Linked DNA regions of Homo sapiens: region 2 is linked to region 1. Evidence: fine-mapped expression QTL. A gene starts in region 1. The other region holds a variant in brackets. All regions are shown on one strand. Distances are from middle to middle.

Evidence for each region. PIP is the estimated chance that this variant, and not a neighbour inherited with it, causes the effect. A credible set is the group of variants that fine-mapping cannot tell apart.
Region 2: its variant is the best candidate, but not a certain one, in a credible set for the expression of MED12L in tibial nerve (GTEx, PIP 0.76).

What each region holds. Positions count from the first base shown.
Region 1 is chr3:151,082,985-151,087,371 of GRCh38, reverse strand. It overlaps MED12L (mediator complex subunit 12L), which reads right to left and starts at 1,708. Exons shown (of 45, transcript NM_001393769.1): 1 at 1,436-1,708; 2 at 347-574. The coding sequence starts at 445. RefSeq lists silencers at 956-1,250, 1,687-2,056.
Region 2 is chr3:150,998,745-151,003,131 of GRCh38, reverse strand. All of the region lies in intron 1 of CLRN1-AS1 (CLRN1 antisense RNA 1), which reads right to left. Among named protein-coding and RNA genes, the nearest start is that of CLRN1, 28 kb to the right of the region's middle. The variant G/TG (reference allele first, on the strand shown) is at 1,992.

The sequences.
Region 1 (4,387 bases):
CCGAAGCGGCAAGAAGAAAAATAAAGCAGGCAGAAACGGGTGAGAGCGAGCAAGGTTTCGGCAGGGAAGAAGCCCGAGAAGCGCCCGGCGGCGCCGTGCAAGGCCCGGCAACGGGAAAGCGACCGGCACATGGAAAGCGAGCGCCCCAGTGGAGCGCGGGGACTGACAGCCGCTCGGTCTCCGCCGCCGGGGGGTCGCCCAGCACCCCCAGCCTGGCCCCCGCCTCTAATCCCCCTCCCCGACCTCTTCCACCGCAGCGCCGGCGATGCCCGCTGGGCCAACTTGGCCCCGGGTCAGTGCTGCAGAGCGCGGCCCCGGTTGCCGGGGAGGCCGCCGGCGCCCTTACCTCCTTCTGCTTGGGGTCCTGTGGGTAGACGTCGGGCGGCCCGAGCCGGGGGCGCTTCAGCGGTCTCTGCTCATAGCTGAGAAGCCCGAAGGCGGCCATGATCTCTCATGTTAACCGGCGAAATGAATGAGAGTTGGAGCTGGAGCAGCCGCCTCTGAGCACCAGGGAGCAGCACTTTGCAGACAGACTCCCTCTCTCCCCCTCCTCGCTCGCTCGCTCGCTGTGGCGCTGCAGGCAGGAGGAATAAAGCAGGTTGGATGCTGCCGCTGCCCGGCAGCAGACACGCACTGATGGGGACAGCCTTCGGCGGGTACTCGGCTGCGCTCGAGCCCCGGGACGCACCGCTCCGGTGGCGGCGGCGGAGGGACTAGAGGTCGGCCAGGGTCCTCCGCGGCGCCTGCCTCCTCTGCTCCCCCCTACCTTGTCTCCAGGGGGAGGAGCAGCTGATGGGAACGTGTGACTTTTTTCACCAATGGACCCAAACCCACCCCAGCTGGGCGCAGGATGGGGGTGGGGGTGGGGCACTGGAAAAAAAAAAAAAAAAACTTTTCTTGGCGCCTAGGCTGGTGGCTGAAGTGCTCGCCCAAGGCGAGGGTGGCCCTCCCCTCCCGGGAAGAAGCTGTGGAGCGGACCGCCCCCGCCTCTCTTCCCCGGCAGGGACCCTTCCCCCGCCGCCACGCGCCCCGCAGACCCCGCCACCTGGACACGGACCGGGCCAGTGCAGGCAGAGGCAGGTCTGGAGGGGGCGCGAGACGCAGGGATGCGGCCGGTGGGAAGCGGCCGGTGCCTCCTAGACGCCCGCCAGGTTCCAGTGGCGCATCCGCAGCTACGGTCCCCTCGGCGGCTCCGGGCAGGCGCCGAGGCGCGCTGCTGGCGGTCGCGGCGGCTGGAGGGGGCCGTGCTCACGGTGGCGTGGGGCCGACTTAACCCTTTACAGTCCCTCCAGGGGCTGGGGAAGGGGGTGAGGAGCGATGGCTGTGAGCGCCGACGGGGGCAGCCAGCCCGCAGGCGTCTCGGGCTCCTCCAGCCCGCCGCCTCCCCACGGCCCCAGCTCCTCTTCCCTTCCGCCCCCAACCCCCAACACTTTACCTGTTGGTCCGCGGCTAGCGGGCTGGGGCTGGCGGCGGCGGGGTCACTCCGGCCGCCGCAGCCTCCATCATTCGGGTTGGGATGGGGGACTTGGATTTGATTTTATTTGTGCGGTATCTGCCTCGCCCGGACGAGCTCCGGGAACGCCGCGAAGTTTGCCACTGTCTGGGGGCGGCGAGCGACGCCGGCTCGCCGCCGGCGTTCTCGCCCCCACGGCCCGGGAGCGCGAGCTTCCGAGTTGGCGGACGGCGGCGCGGCGTCCGCACTGAGCATGCCCAGCTCGGCGGCCGGACCGCGGAGGAGTTGGCTGAGAGCGCGGTGAGCGCGCTCCAATCCGCCTCTCCGGGTTTTCGCAGCCGCAGAGCGCGCAGCCCGCGGGCCCCGGCGCCGAGGCTGGCCCTGGGGTGAACCTGGGCGAGGGAGGGAGCGCCCTCTGGAGCCCTGCTCCAAGCCCCCCGCTGCACCCTCCGCCTCGACCTCCCCAGAGGTCGCGGTCCCCGTGGCCTGGGCCGAAAACCTCACCTGCGCCGGGAGCGTGGAAGGGGCGGGGGGGGTGATCCTCCAGGGCAGACCTTGGTCATCCAACCCGCCCTCGCTCCTCGCTTCGGGGCGCGGGCACCAAGATGCTGGGCCACCTGGCGCGAGCTCTGCGAGACCGGAGCCGCGGAGGCGGGCTCGGCCTGTCCTGAGGGACCCCGCGGGAGGCGTGCCCGGGAGAATGCGCCCGCACTTGGCCAAGAATGATGGCTGCCATTTATGGAGCCTTCGCTACGTGCCAGGATCTTGATAGTCAGAATCTCTGGTCCTTACAACCTTCCACGGTCTTACTGTACCCTTTTTATGGATGGAGAAATTGAGCCAGCTCAGAGAGGACCACTCACTTGCCGAAAGCCACGAAACGAGTCGGAATTTGAACCCACGACTGATTCTAAGTTTCTGACCTGTTTTCCCTGACTTGGACTTGGAGGGACTGGGTTCCTAACCTGTCCTTGCCTGATGGACTCACGTTCTCCACGGCTTGAGGCATTCTCGGCCTTCCCTCTCTGTAAGGTGGTAAAGGCAGATTCTAACCGGAAGCCTTTGATACATAGTAGGTGCTCTGGAAATGCTGGTTGAATCTGAACATCAACTTTGATGTTCGTTGACATTTAAGCAAAGGGGGAAGAAGGAGATAAATAAAGTGAAGGTAATGTGGTAGAGGCTAGTTCCTCACTCCTGATCCTGACCTGTGAGCACCTCCAAACCCAGTTTGAGGCTGAGTCAGGTGTTTAGCTTTTGGCTTCCTTAATCTGAACAATTACTTCTAGAGAGCATTTACCTAACTTCACTGGAGGGCATTTCCTGACCACCTTCCCCATCTTGCCCCAGGGTCTTCTCTTCCACTAATATCCTGGGATTAATTTCATGGCTGGACTTGCCCTTGTGATACAGGCATCTATCAAATGTAGCTCCCTTGTTTGAAAGAAAGGACAGTTTTTTGTTGTTGTTGTTTTCTTTGTTTGGTTGGTTGGTTGTTTTTTGAGACAGAGCCTCGCTCTGTCGCCCAGGCTGGAGTGCAGTGGCGAGATCTCGGCTCACTGCAAGCTCCGCCTCCTGGGTTCACGCCATTCTCCTGCCTCAGCCTCCCGCGTAGCTGGGGCTACAGGCGCCCGCCACCACGCCCGGCTAATTTTTTTTGTATTTCTTTTTTTTAGTAGAGACGGGGTTTCACAGTGTTAGCTAGGATGGTCTCGATCTCCTGACCTCGCAATCCGCCCACCTCGGCCTCCCAAAGTGCTGGGATTACAGGCGTGAGCCACCGCGCCCGGCCGAAAGGGTTTTTTTTATTATCTAACTTTATTAGGGAAATTATTAAACATACAAAAAGCTGAAGAAATCATATAAGGAGCCCTCAAATATTCATCTCTCAGCTATAAAAATTAAAGTTACTATTTTTGTTTCATCTTTCTCCCCCATTCCCAACTCACTGACATACACTAGTAAGGACAGTTTTACTCATTGTTGCAACTCAGAAACACTGTATGGGACCTGACACATGGTGAGCATTCAAAAATGTTGGCTTATGGAATGGATGATAGGTAGGCGATGTGTGGATGGACTGATGATTGCATCATTAGTGGTACTTTGGGAATAACAGCCTGCGCTGCTACTGAATCAAACACCCCTAGTTTGGGGGAGAAATGTAATCTCAGTTCTTCCCTTGGGATGCCTAAGCAAGCGCCTCCAACTGAAACACTTTGAAGCACTTAAAATCTTATCTGCCCATAAGAATTTTATCTTAAAATCAAAATGTGTCAGTAGTGTGCCCCTGGTGTTTGGGAAGAAGGGAAAATAATAGCCCTCTCCCTGTTGTTGTCCCTTCTTAACTCCCTCTCCTGAAACAGTCTGGCATGAATTCCTTGACCCTCTCAACACAAAATAAATAAATATTGAAAACTTTAATATGCTTAGAAGCTTCCCCTAGGAATCATTATTTTACTGCATGGATTTCCCATGGGCATTTGGCTCCTTACCCTGGGAAATCTTTGTAATCTACCCCCTACCTAGCAATTCAGCTTTTTCTCCTTAACCTCTTGCCCTAGTTAGCTTCCTTTCCTAATATGGAATTCCCAGGCTCTTCATCTTCAAATACTCACCTCTACAGTCCTCAGAGTACGGATTCCTGTACAAAGCCCCTTCAAATTCCCCTGGCAAAAGGTGATCTTTTGGCTTTTTAGTGCCCTTAGCACTTAATTTTTATTATCTTAACACTTATTTATTGGCATGCATTTGAATGTGTCACACAGAATAGTCTTGTTGCCTCATTCTCACCTTTTCCTCCTGGTCCCCTTCTTCCATTCCAGGTCTTTAAGCAGACTAAGATCAGCTCATCATGATGGGCTTAACCTGTAACCCACTGTGTTCTATACAGTGCTTGAATTTCCCACGTGGTGCTGGTTAATATAGCAGGCA
Region 2 (4,387 bases), 84 kb after region 1:
TCTGCATACCAACATTAATAAGATATTGATTGATTACAACAAATTTACCCTGCATTACTGCCTCAGAGCTCTTATCACTAATTAAAATTATAAGGTATTATATGTATTTAATTACCTACTTGTTTATTTTCTGTCTCTCCTACTAGAATGTAAGCTCATGAGGGCAAGGACTTTGTCGTATTCACAGCTGTATCTTTAGCACTTCAAACAAGGCCTCCTCCATTATGGGCACTCAACAAATACTGATTGAAGGGATGAAAGAACAGATTAACAGTTCAGCCTAGGATAGAGTCAGATGCGAGATATTTTTTGGAATACTCGGCAAATACAAGTCCTTCATGGGTGGCCATGACTATCAGATCAAACAAGGCCTGAGCCATGCTCTTCACAGGCAGTATTGTTACAGAGATTCCTGGTCTGGTGCACTTCTAAAGTCAGAGTCTCTGGAGATCTCACCTGCAGCTGTATGAAGAAGAAAACATAAGAATGTTCTCTATCTGCACATTCCTTTCCCTTTCTCTTATTAAAAATAAACATTGTGCTGGTGAGTTTTTCCTGTGTTCCTCCCCACTCTCAGAAACAGTTCTAATGTCCAGATTAAGTATTTCCTAAGGGGAGAAAAAAACTGTATTCCTTTTGAAGAATGACCATCTGTGTAGCCTTGGAGAAACCCTAGAGGACTCATGAATGGAAAAGGATCTCCGGGCCAAAAATCAGTTCTCACTTAATGTCTTCTCTGGCTATTGCTCTGGCAGTTGAATGGAGTCAGATTTTCATCTTATGTAATATGACAGGACAATTCAACTTCCATTGAGTGTAGCACATATCCCTAGAGCTACATAGGACAGAACTAAGTGGTTACATAAACACATATGGAAACGTAAAAATTTTAAAGACAGGCTAAGCACTCCAAGGGACATGTTACCCCCAGGGGAAATTAACAGTTAGATCAACAAGCAGAGCTCTCCTCTAAGTCACACATGGATTTCATACAGTTTATGGCCATACTACTGGAGGGGAAAATGACTTTATGTACATATTTTTCATGACTTACTCTGAGAAGGAGAAAATAGGCAATACCTTTTATCTCAGGATATCAGGAGACAGAAAAGGGATGACCATGGGGCATACTAGTTGGGGTCAGAACAAACAATGTATTAATCAGGGATTCTGCAGGAAACAGCATACTCAAAACAACTTATTGAAAGGGATTTAATTAAGCCACTAGTTACAAAGGTATGGACAGGTTAAGGGAACAAACAAAGGATGGTGAGGCCTCCAGGGACTGAGGAAGCCTGTTCTACTTTTAGGCCTGAAGAGAGCAAAGGGTGGAGGTTGTGTTATCAAAACCAGCACAATCTATAGTCCTTGGAGAGAATCCACCCAATAGGAGCTACAGCTATGTGCAGACAGAGCCCGAACCATGAGGAAATTGGAGGGAGAGCATATGGAGATGGGGGGAACGAATATAAATAGCCCAAACTCTCTTTCTTCCCACCTACCAGTTTCTTGCTGATGCTTCTCACTGGCCACAGGAAAGCACCAGGGGCAAGGAAGTCTGTGTAAGAAAGAGCACAGGGGTCAGCTTCCTGAGGCACAGCAGGTTACAGAAGGGCCAAGAATGGGCAGACAAGGAGGAGAGGGCATGTGGACAAAAATCAACACAAATAACGCCTACTAGCCCTACTACTACTCGACTGCAGACAAGGGTTGACATTTGTTGGATGTGCTAGGCACAGTCCTATGCCGTTTACATGAATCATCCCACTTAATACTTGTGATGCGATTTACTGTGAAATCAACTAAGCTGAAGCTTCAGGCCCCTCTATTGCACAGATACCTTTCAGGGACCTCAGAGGGACCCTAGCCATAAATTTACATAGTGCTTATGGAAATTTTGCAAATGTAAGATACGTTTACCTTAATTAATTAAGGTTACTGTTTCTTTCCAATCAGACTTCACTGCTGTTACGTTTCCCTTCCCGTCAGGT[G/TG]GCACTGAGTGTGGGAATTTTTTGGATATGGCTAATGGGATGTTGAGGTGGGATTACACTAAAGTTGGGTTTAGTAAGAGATTTTTAGGTGGTTTTCAATCACGCCAGTGTAGAAACGGCGTCCAGGAATACTCCTTTTATCTACTATGCTGATTCATCATGGAACCAAGCTTCACGGCCAGGGGTTGGGGTACGAAAGTGAGATACAGCACGTAATTCTGGACATACGGCTATGGAGGAGACACGAGATTTGAAAAACTCGAGCCGGAAGCTAGCCTCTGTGGAATTCTTCTAATCATAGCATGTGTAAAATTGTAAGGGGAGGGTGGAATTCTCATTGATAACTAGACAATATGGAAGTTTTTTTCTTGGCAATAATATACTGTAAAATTCAGTGCATACAATTGTAACAGCATTGTACTTTTTTCTCCTTTTTGATGAGAATTGTGTGAAGTAGAAGAGTAGAATTTCTGTGCCTGGAGGGCATATACCAATACCAGCACCACTTATATGCAAATCATCACAAATTCTACATTTTATCATGTATTTTGCAGGCCACCAAAGTAAAATTGAGAAAAAGATATATGTAAGTATATTCTAAAGTAATGTAATAATAGCAAATATTTACTAGCATGTACTATATCTGGCATTGTGCTAAGCATTTTATAGGTATTAACTCATTTAATCTTCACAGCAACCCTTTGAAGTAGGTGCTATTGTTATCCTCCTCCTGTCTTTTCTTTTCTTTTTTTTTGTTTTTTGTTTAGTTTAGTTTTGTTTTTTTTGAGACTGAGTCTCGCTCTATTGCCCAGGACGGAGTGAAGTGGCACGATATTGGCTCACTGCAATCTCCGCCCCCCAGGTTCAAGCAATTCTCCTGCTGCAGCTTCCCAAGTAGTTGGGATTACAGGTGTCCGCCACCACGCCCAGCTAATTTTTGTATTTTTAGTAGAGACGGGGTTTCACCATGTTGGCCAGGCTGGTCTCGAACTCCTGACCTCAAATGATCCACTCACCTTGGCCTCCCAAAGTGCTGGGATTACAGGCGTTAGCTGCCGCACCCGGCCCTGTCTTTTACTTTCAAAAGCCTAAACTCATTGTTGGGATCAGAATTTGAGGTGAGAGAGGAGTCCTTCTGGGGAAGTATGATCAAAGAAGACTTTTCTCAAGATGAAGTCCCAGGGACTGGAACAGACCTCAGTGGCTGGGCCCAAGGGTGGCGCCATGGCATGCCAAGGATGACCAAGGATAAAACATAGTGTGGAAATAGCTGACTTCAGACTTCAAGGAAACACTTGGGCTGAGACAGTGGGGCATTTCAGCAATTAGTAGACAATTTAGCAGGGTGGGGGCCTGAAATTATCATTAAATTGATTTATGAAAATGAAAGAAATTAATTTTGTTTGCAGAGTTTGAGGAATAAGACTTATATTTGCTATTTAAGTTTAACTCTGTGAAAATAGAAACAAAGGAATTATACACCTTGGCTTCATCTCCTTCAAAATCTGAAATACCTAATAAAAAGAATATTGGTTTGGGGACCATAAATAACTGGCTTTGAATTCCAGCTCTGCTATTTATTAGCTAAGTGACCTTGAAAAATGTGTAAAATTTCTGTGAGCCTCAGTTTCATCAGCTGTAAAAATGGGAATAATAGTGTTATTGTAGGAATTATCTTAGTGCATTTAAAACTCCTGACCTGCTACTTCATAACAGGCATTTAAATATTGGTTTTCATTATAAATGAAAATAAAATCTAAACGCATTTTCTGGAAGAAAGTGTTGCAGAAGCACAAATTACATACTACCCTTTCAATGCCACCTAGCTAATATGCTTTATGAAGAAACCCAGCTGTAATTTAAAAAAAATTTTGAACTCACCCAACGTTTTTGCCCTGCTTCTAAAACTAGAAACCAAGGAGGTAACGTGTACCCATCTGTGCACCCACACCCTTTTGAATATGAAGTTTAAATAAAAGTCTTCTCAGTCTGTTTAAACAGTACTCCTCGGCTTTGAGGCAGATAGATCTGCTTCAATTAGAACCTAATCCTGCTCTCCTCATACTTGCAATGCTCTCACTAAAACTCGTGAGAGAGAAACAATAGTCCATTTAATTAAATGATGCTGAAGCCTGAATTCAATCCATCTGTGTATTGAGAAGTAAGATTTTGAATATTGATTATTCTTCCCTGCATGAAAACTTTGCTATCTGCTCTGCATTCTCTCCCCAATAAGGAATGATGTTTTCCCTACTATAGCGGCTTTTATTTTAAAACAAACTAAATAGGCCTAGTTCTAGAACAAAAAACAATGTTATTGTTTCTCTTTTTCCCTTCAGCTCTCCATTTCGGGCTTCTGGAACTTTTCTCTCTGTCCTTACCCCACCCATCTAGTC